2 separate regions of the Homo sapiens genome follow, and region 2 is linked to region 1. A link means that fine-mapping ties the variant in region 1 to the expression of a gene that starts in the linked region. Tissue or cell type: whole blood. Region 1 holds a variant in brackets; the other region holds the start of a gene. All regions are shown on one strand. Distances are between the middles of the regions.

The links. PIP is the estimated chance that this variant, and not a neighbour inherited with it, causes the effect. A credible set is the group of variants that fine-mapping cannot tell apart.
Region 2: it holds the start of CLEC6A, and the variant in region 1 is the best candidate, but not a certain one, in a credible set for the expression of CLEC6A in whole blood (INTERVAL, PIP 0.86).

What each region holds. Positions count from the first base shown.
Region 1 is chr12:8,478,715-8,481,477 of GRCh38, forward strand. No RefSeq gene overlaps it. Among named protein-coding and RNA genes, the nearest start is that of CLEC6A, 24 kb to the left of the region's middle. The variant T/G (reference allele first, on the strand shown) is at 1,216.
Region 2 is chr12:8,454,755-8,457,517 of GRCh38, forward strand. CLEC6A (C-type lectin domain containing 6A) reads left to right here and starts at 1,208. Exons shown (of 6, transcript NM_001007033.2): 1 at 1,208-1,388. The coding sequence starts at 1,358.

The DNA of each region.
Region 1 (2,763 bases):
TTGAATAGAAATTTGGCACAACAATTTTTTAAATTAATTTAGCAAATATTTGGATATTAAAGCTTCTTATAGAAAGAGATACCTGTATATTTAAGCCATGATGAGGTATATACAATGTTATAATTATTACTTGTACATGGCAAATTAATTTTTTTATCATTGTGGAGTCACTTTCTTTAAATTTAGTAATGCCTTTGGCTTTAATTTTTCTCCTGATATTAAAATAGATACAGTAACTTTCATTATGTTAGTGCTGTAAAATTTTTTTTTCCATCTTCTATTTTTGACCATTTTTATTCCACATGTGCTCTTAATAAGTAGCATATAGTTAAATTTTAAAAAATCCAATATGGCAATCACCTTTTAGGTTAAAAATTTAATCCATTTACATTTGTGACAATTCGACATATATATGGTTCTAAATCTATCATCTTACTAGGTGGTTTCCATTTCCTCTGCTCCAAAATATTTTTTTTACAGCTTATAACACAACTTTTATTAGAAAAGTTATACATAACACAGCATCAACTATTTTCAAGAACCCAATAAGCAACAAAAACCAGACTAACAAAATGTGTAACAAGAAACTAATGACCTTTCTAAAATCAAACATTCAATTATCTACAATGTCTATTTACAAACAGGGAAAACTCCATGGTTTACAGGCATGTCATATTGAAAATAAAGCTGCAATAGCTTTTTATACAATTATCGCTCTCAAGAAAATGAATCATTAAGACAGTAATTAGGAGTTCACAAATTTAAAACATTTCACGTAATTTTAAATTATTGTCTTCAATAATTTTAAATTATTGAAGTCTGAGTTTCAAAAGTGATTTTTTTCCCACAAAGGTGCCAACACTTAAGCTAGAGCTTTCAGTGTTAACTTTGCCCTAAAAGTTAAGACATATTCTGAGAATCATAATAGTCACATGATTTCTGATGCTATCTGCTCTGTTAATAACAAAGATTTCACACATGAATACCTATGTAACAAATCTCCATGTTCTACACATATACCCCAGAACTTAAAGTATAATAATAATAAAACATAGCAAAGCCTTTATCTGGATGTGTTTTTCTTTAATTAAATTATAGGAAGCTGGATATAGGATTTTGTTGCAAATCTGTTAAAGTTCCAAACACAGGAGTGTGCAGCACTGGAAAAGGAGATCAGTACTAAAACTTAAAATAAATATCAGAGAAACCATTAGC[T/G]TTTACAGCATTGTCTGTTTAAAGGTTAAGTTGACCAGGTGTATAATTTCCCATCAGTCTCTTCTTACAGTAGGCAGGGCAATTTCTATTTTCATGATCTGAATACTCAAATATATCCAAACATCTTTTTAAAGCTTTGATTTATAGCTCCTAGAAAGTTATAATTTTTAATAGTCACTCTACTCTAATGAAGCCTATTTCTGCTCATCACACTTATCACTGCTTTGAATGTGTCCCAGAGATTCCGGTATGTTGTGTCTTTGTTCTCATTGGTTTCAAAGAACATCTTTATTTCTGCCTTCATTTCATTTTGTACCCAGTATTCATTCAGGAGCAGGTTGTTCAGTTTCCATGTAGTTGAGCGGTTTTGAGTGAGTTTCTTAACCCTGAGTTCTAGTTTGATTGCACTGTGGTCTGAGAGACAGTTTGTTATAATTTCTGTTATTTTACATTTGCTGAGGAGAGCTTTACTTCCAACTATGTGGTCAATTTTGGAATAGGTGTGGTGTGGTGCTGAAAAAAATGTATATTCTGTTGATTTGGGGTGGAGAGTTCTGTAGATGTCTATTAGGTCTGCTTGGCGCAGAGCTGAGTTCAATTCCTGGATATCCTTGTTAACTTTCTGTCTCGTTGATCTGTCTAATGTTGACAGTTGGGTGTTAAAGTCTCCCATTATTATTATGTGGGAGTCTAAGTCTCTTTGTAGGTCTCTAAGGACTTGCTTTATGAATCTGGGTGCTCCTGTATTGGGTGCATATATATTTAGGATACTTAGCTCTTCTTGTTGAACTGATCCCTTTGCCACTATGCGATGGCCTTCTTTGTCTCTTTTAATCTTTGTTGGTTTTAAGTCTGTTTCATCAGAGACTAGGATTGCAACCCCTGCTTTTTTTTTTTTTTTTTGCTTTCCTTTTGTCTGGTAGATCTTCCTCCATCCCCTTATTTTGAGCCAATATGTGTCTCTGCACATGAGATGGGTCTCCTGAATAGAGCACACTGATGGGTCTTGACTCTATATACAATTTGCCAGTCTGTGTGTTTTAACAGGGGAATTTAGCCCATTTACATTTAAGGTTAATATTGTTAATGTGTGAATTTGATCCTGTCATTATGATGTTAGATGGTTATTTTGCCCGTTAGTTGATGAAGTTTCTTCCTAGCCTTGATGGTCTTTACAATTTGTCATGTTTTTGCGGTGCCTGGTACTGGTTGTTCCTTTCCATGTTTAGTGCTTCCTTCAGGTGCTCTAATAAGGCAGGCCTGGTGGTGACAAAATCTCTCAGCATTTGTTTGTCTGTAAAGGATTTTATTTCTCCTTCACTTATGAAGTTTAGTTTGGCTGGATTTGAAATTCTGGGTTGAAAATTGTTTTCTGTAAGAATTTTGAATATGGGCCCCCACTCTCTTCTAGCTTATTGGGTTTCTGCTGAGATCCACTGTTAGTCTGATGGGCTTCCCTTTATGGGTAACCCAACCTTTCTCTCTGGCTGCCCTTAACATTTTTTCCTTCGTTTCAACCTTGGTGAATCTGACAATTATGTGTCTTGG
Region 2 (2,763 bases), 24 kb before region 1:
GATGGGTGCACAAAAATCTCACAAATCACCACTAAAAACCTTACTCATGTAACCAAATACCACCTGTACCTCAATAACTTATGGAAAAATAAAAATTAAAAAAAGAATGAATCAGGAGAGGGAGTGAATTAAAAAGTTACTCATCAGTAAATTATCATTGGTTTACAGAAACCACATTGATTAGTAATTAGCTGTATACTGTTAAATTTTAGGGTTCAGTTAGTCTAGAACCTACATAGCAAATGGCTTCAAGAGGTAAATTTCGTGCAAGGTGGCAGTGAGGCATGACTCCTGTCATATCTCTCTCATGAGTCCACTCTGGACTTGATAGTTTCAAGGCACTCACATTCCTCAAATAACAGTTTTTTTTTTTTTTCGTTCTCAGCACTCCATAGATTTATGGCTGTTTGTTAACATACTATTTAAGCAAGGCCTGTAAGCCACTGCCATGAAAGAGATAAATACATTTGAACTGAGTTCTCTCCTGAGTGATGGGTATAACACACATTGATAAACTGCTGCTTTTTCTCTTGTTTCTCTGCCTTTTGTTTTCAGGACAGTGTCTCTACTAAGAATCTATGAGGACAAGAAAACATCATATATTTTCTGTGCTACAATATAAAATTCATGAAGCCTGTTTCTGATTTTATATCACTTCAGGCTCCCTTTTGCCTAATCAGGGAGATTACAAAATATCACTGACATCTGCCCAATATTAGTCTGGATGCAGTAAGAATGTTTCATCACCTTTGCAGACTGATTTCAGAATGTTTCATTTTGCAGTCACATTCCTTAACAATGTTCATGGGTTTTGTTATTTACTATGTTACCCTTCATATCTAAACCATATCCATCCAATCAAACTTTTGCTTACTACCTAGGACACTGTTCAACACATGGATTAAGGCTTGCATAAAATAAGCAGCCAATGTAAAGGTTAGTTAGGGAGCACTTAATTTAACCAAGTTCTCTAAATAGATGTCTTTTAGGAGATAAAAAATTTTCTATTTTGCATGCCAGAATGAATAGGAATCAGACAGAGAAATTTTATGTTAGAAACTGAAGAAATGATCTAAGTATTCTTGTCAAAGTTCTCATGAATGGTTTTCAATGTTTCTCAATTCCTCTTTTGTTTTTTTTAACCCCACGTATCGAAATCACTGGAAACTTTAGTTGTAATTGTGACTTCTTCTTTTGAGGTACACTTAATGTTGGAAGTCTCTTAGTCCTATAAGAGTGTGTAGCAGTTTGTCCCTGAGCTCTAGCTTCTTTAAATGAAGCTGAGTCTCTGGGCAACATCTTTAGGGAGAGAGGTACAAAAGGTTCCTGGACCTTCTCAACACAGGGAGCCTGCATAATGATGCAAGAGCAGCAACCTCAAAGTACAGGTGAGTATTTCCTCAGTTTCAGAGGAAAGTGGAAGTGTATGGTGAAATGAGATCACCTGGAGAGAAGAAGTAGCCAAAGAACAGATTGAAGAGCTAGTGATTGGACCAATATAGTAGACTCAAAGGAATTTGAAAGAAAGAGTAATTCTTCAGAGCCAGAGCCATAAGCACTTGAAAGAATAAGAAAGCAAATATTTTTTGGGAGGTTTGTACCAGATTTTATTGATAGTTTAGGGAGACAGAAAAGATTTACATGATAGAAGGTAAACAGGGAAATAACTGATTATTGGATGTCTGCTCTTCAAAGTCTTTTGACTAATTTTGAAATCCAGGAAGCAGTACTCTTTCCAATTACCCTAAGTTTTTTTGTACTTGCTTTTCTAATTTTTTTGTAAGAGAAAAGCTTCCCATTTTTAATGCATGAAAATTTGACTTTAGCTTCAACCCTTTGCATGTCCATCAATAATGTTTTAAAAAAATTTTTATTAAAATTTTTTATGGATACAAAATAGTTGTGCATGTTTATGGGCTCCATGTCATATTTTGACACAAGAATATGATGCGTAATGGTAAAGTCTGGAAAATTACATTATCCATCACCTCAAATATTTATCATGTCTTTGTGTTTGGAACATTCCAAATCTACTCTTCTAGCTATTTTGACATATGCAATAAATTATTGTTGGGTTAGGCTCAGTGGCTCACACCTGTAATCTCAGCACTTTGGGAGGCTGAGGTGGGTGGATCACTTGAGGTCAGGAGTTAGAGACCAGCCTGGCCAACATGGTGAAATCCCGTCTCTAATAAAAAGACAAAACTTAGCTGGGCATGGTGGCATGCACCTGTAATCCTAGCCACTCAGGAGGCTGAGGCAGGAGAATCACTTGAACCCAGGAGGTGGAGGTTGCAGGGTGCCAAGATTGCCTCATTGTGCTTCAGCCTGGGTGACAGAGTGAGACTCCATGTCAAAAAAAAAAAAAAGTTAACTACAGTTATCCTGCTGTGCTAAGGGACACTAGATTTTATTTCTTCTAGCTAATTGTATTTTTGTAGGTACGAAACAACCCTTCTCTATCTTCTCTTCCCAGTTAACCTTCCTGGCCTCTGGTAACCACCATTCTATTCACTACCTCCATGAGATCAATTTTTTTAACTCCCACATATGAGTCAGAATATGCAATGTTTGTCTTTCTGTGCCTGGCTCATTTCACTTAACACGATGTCCTCTGGTTCCATCTGTGCTGTTGCAAATGGCAGGATTTTATTCTTTTTTATGGTGGAATAATATGCCATTGTATATATTATACTACATTTTCTTTATCCATTCATCTGTTGATGGACACTTAGGTTGCTTTCATATCTTGGCTACTGTGAA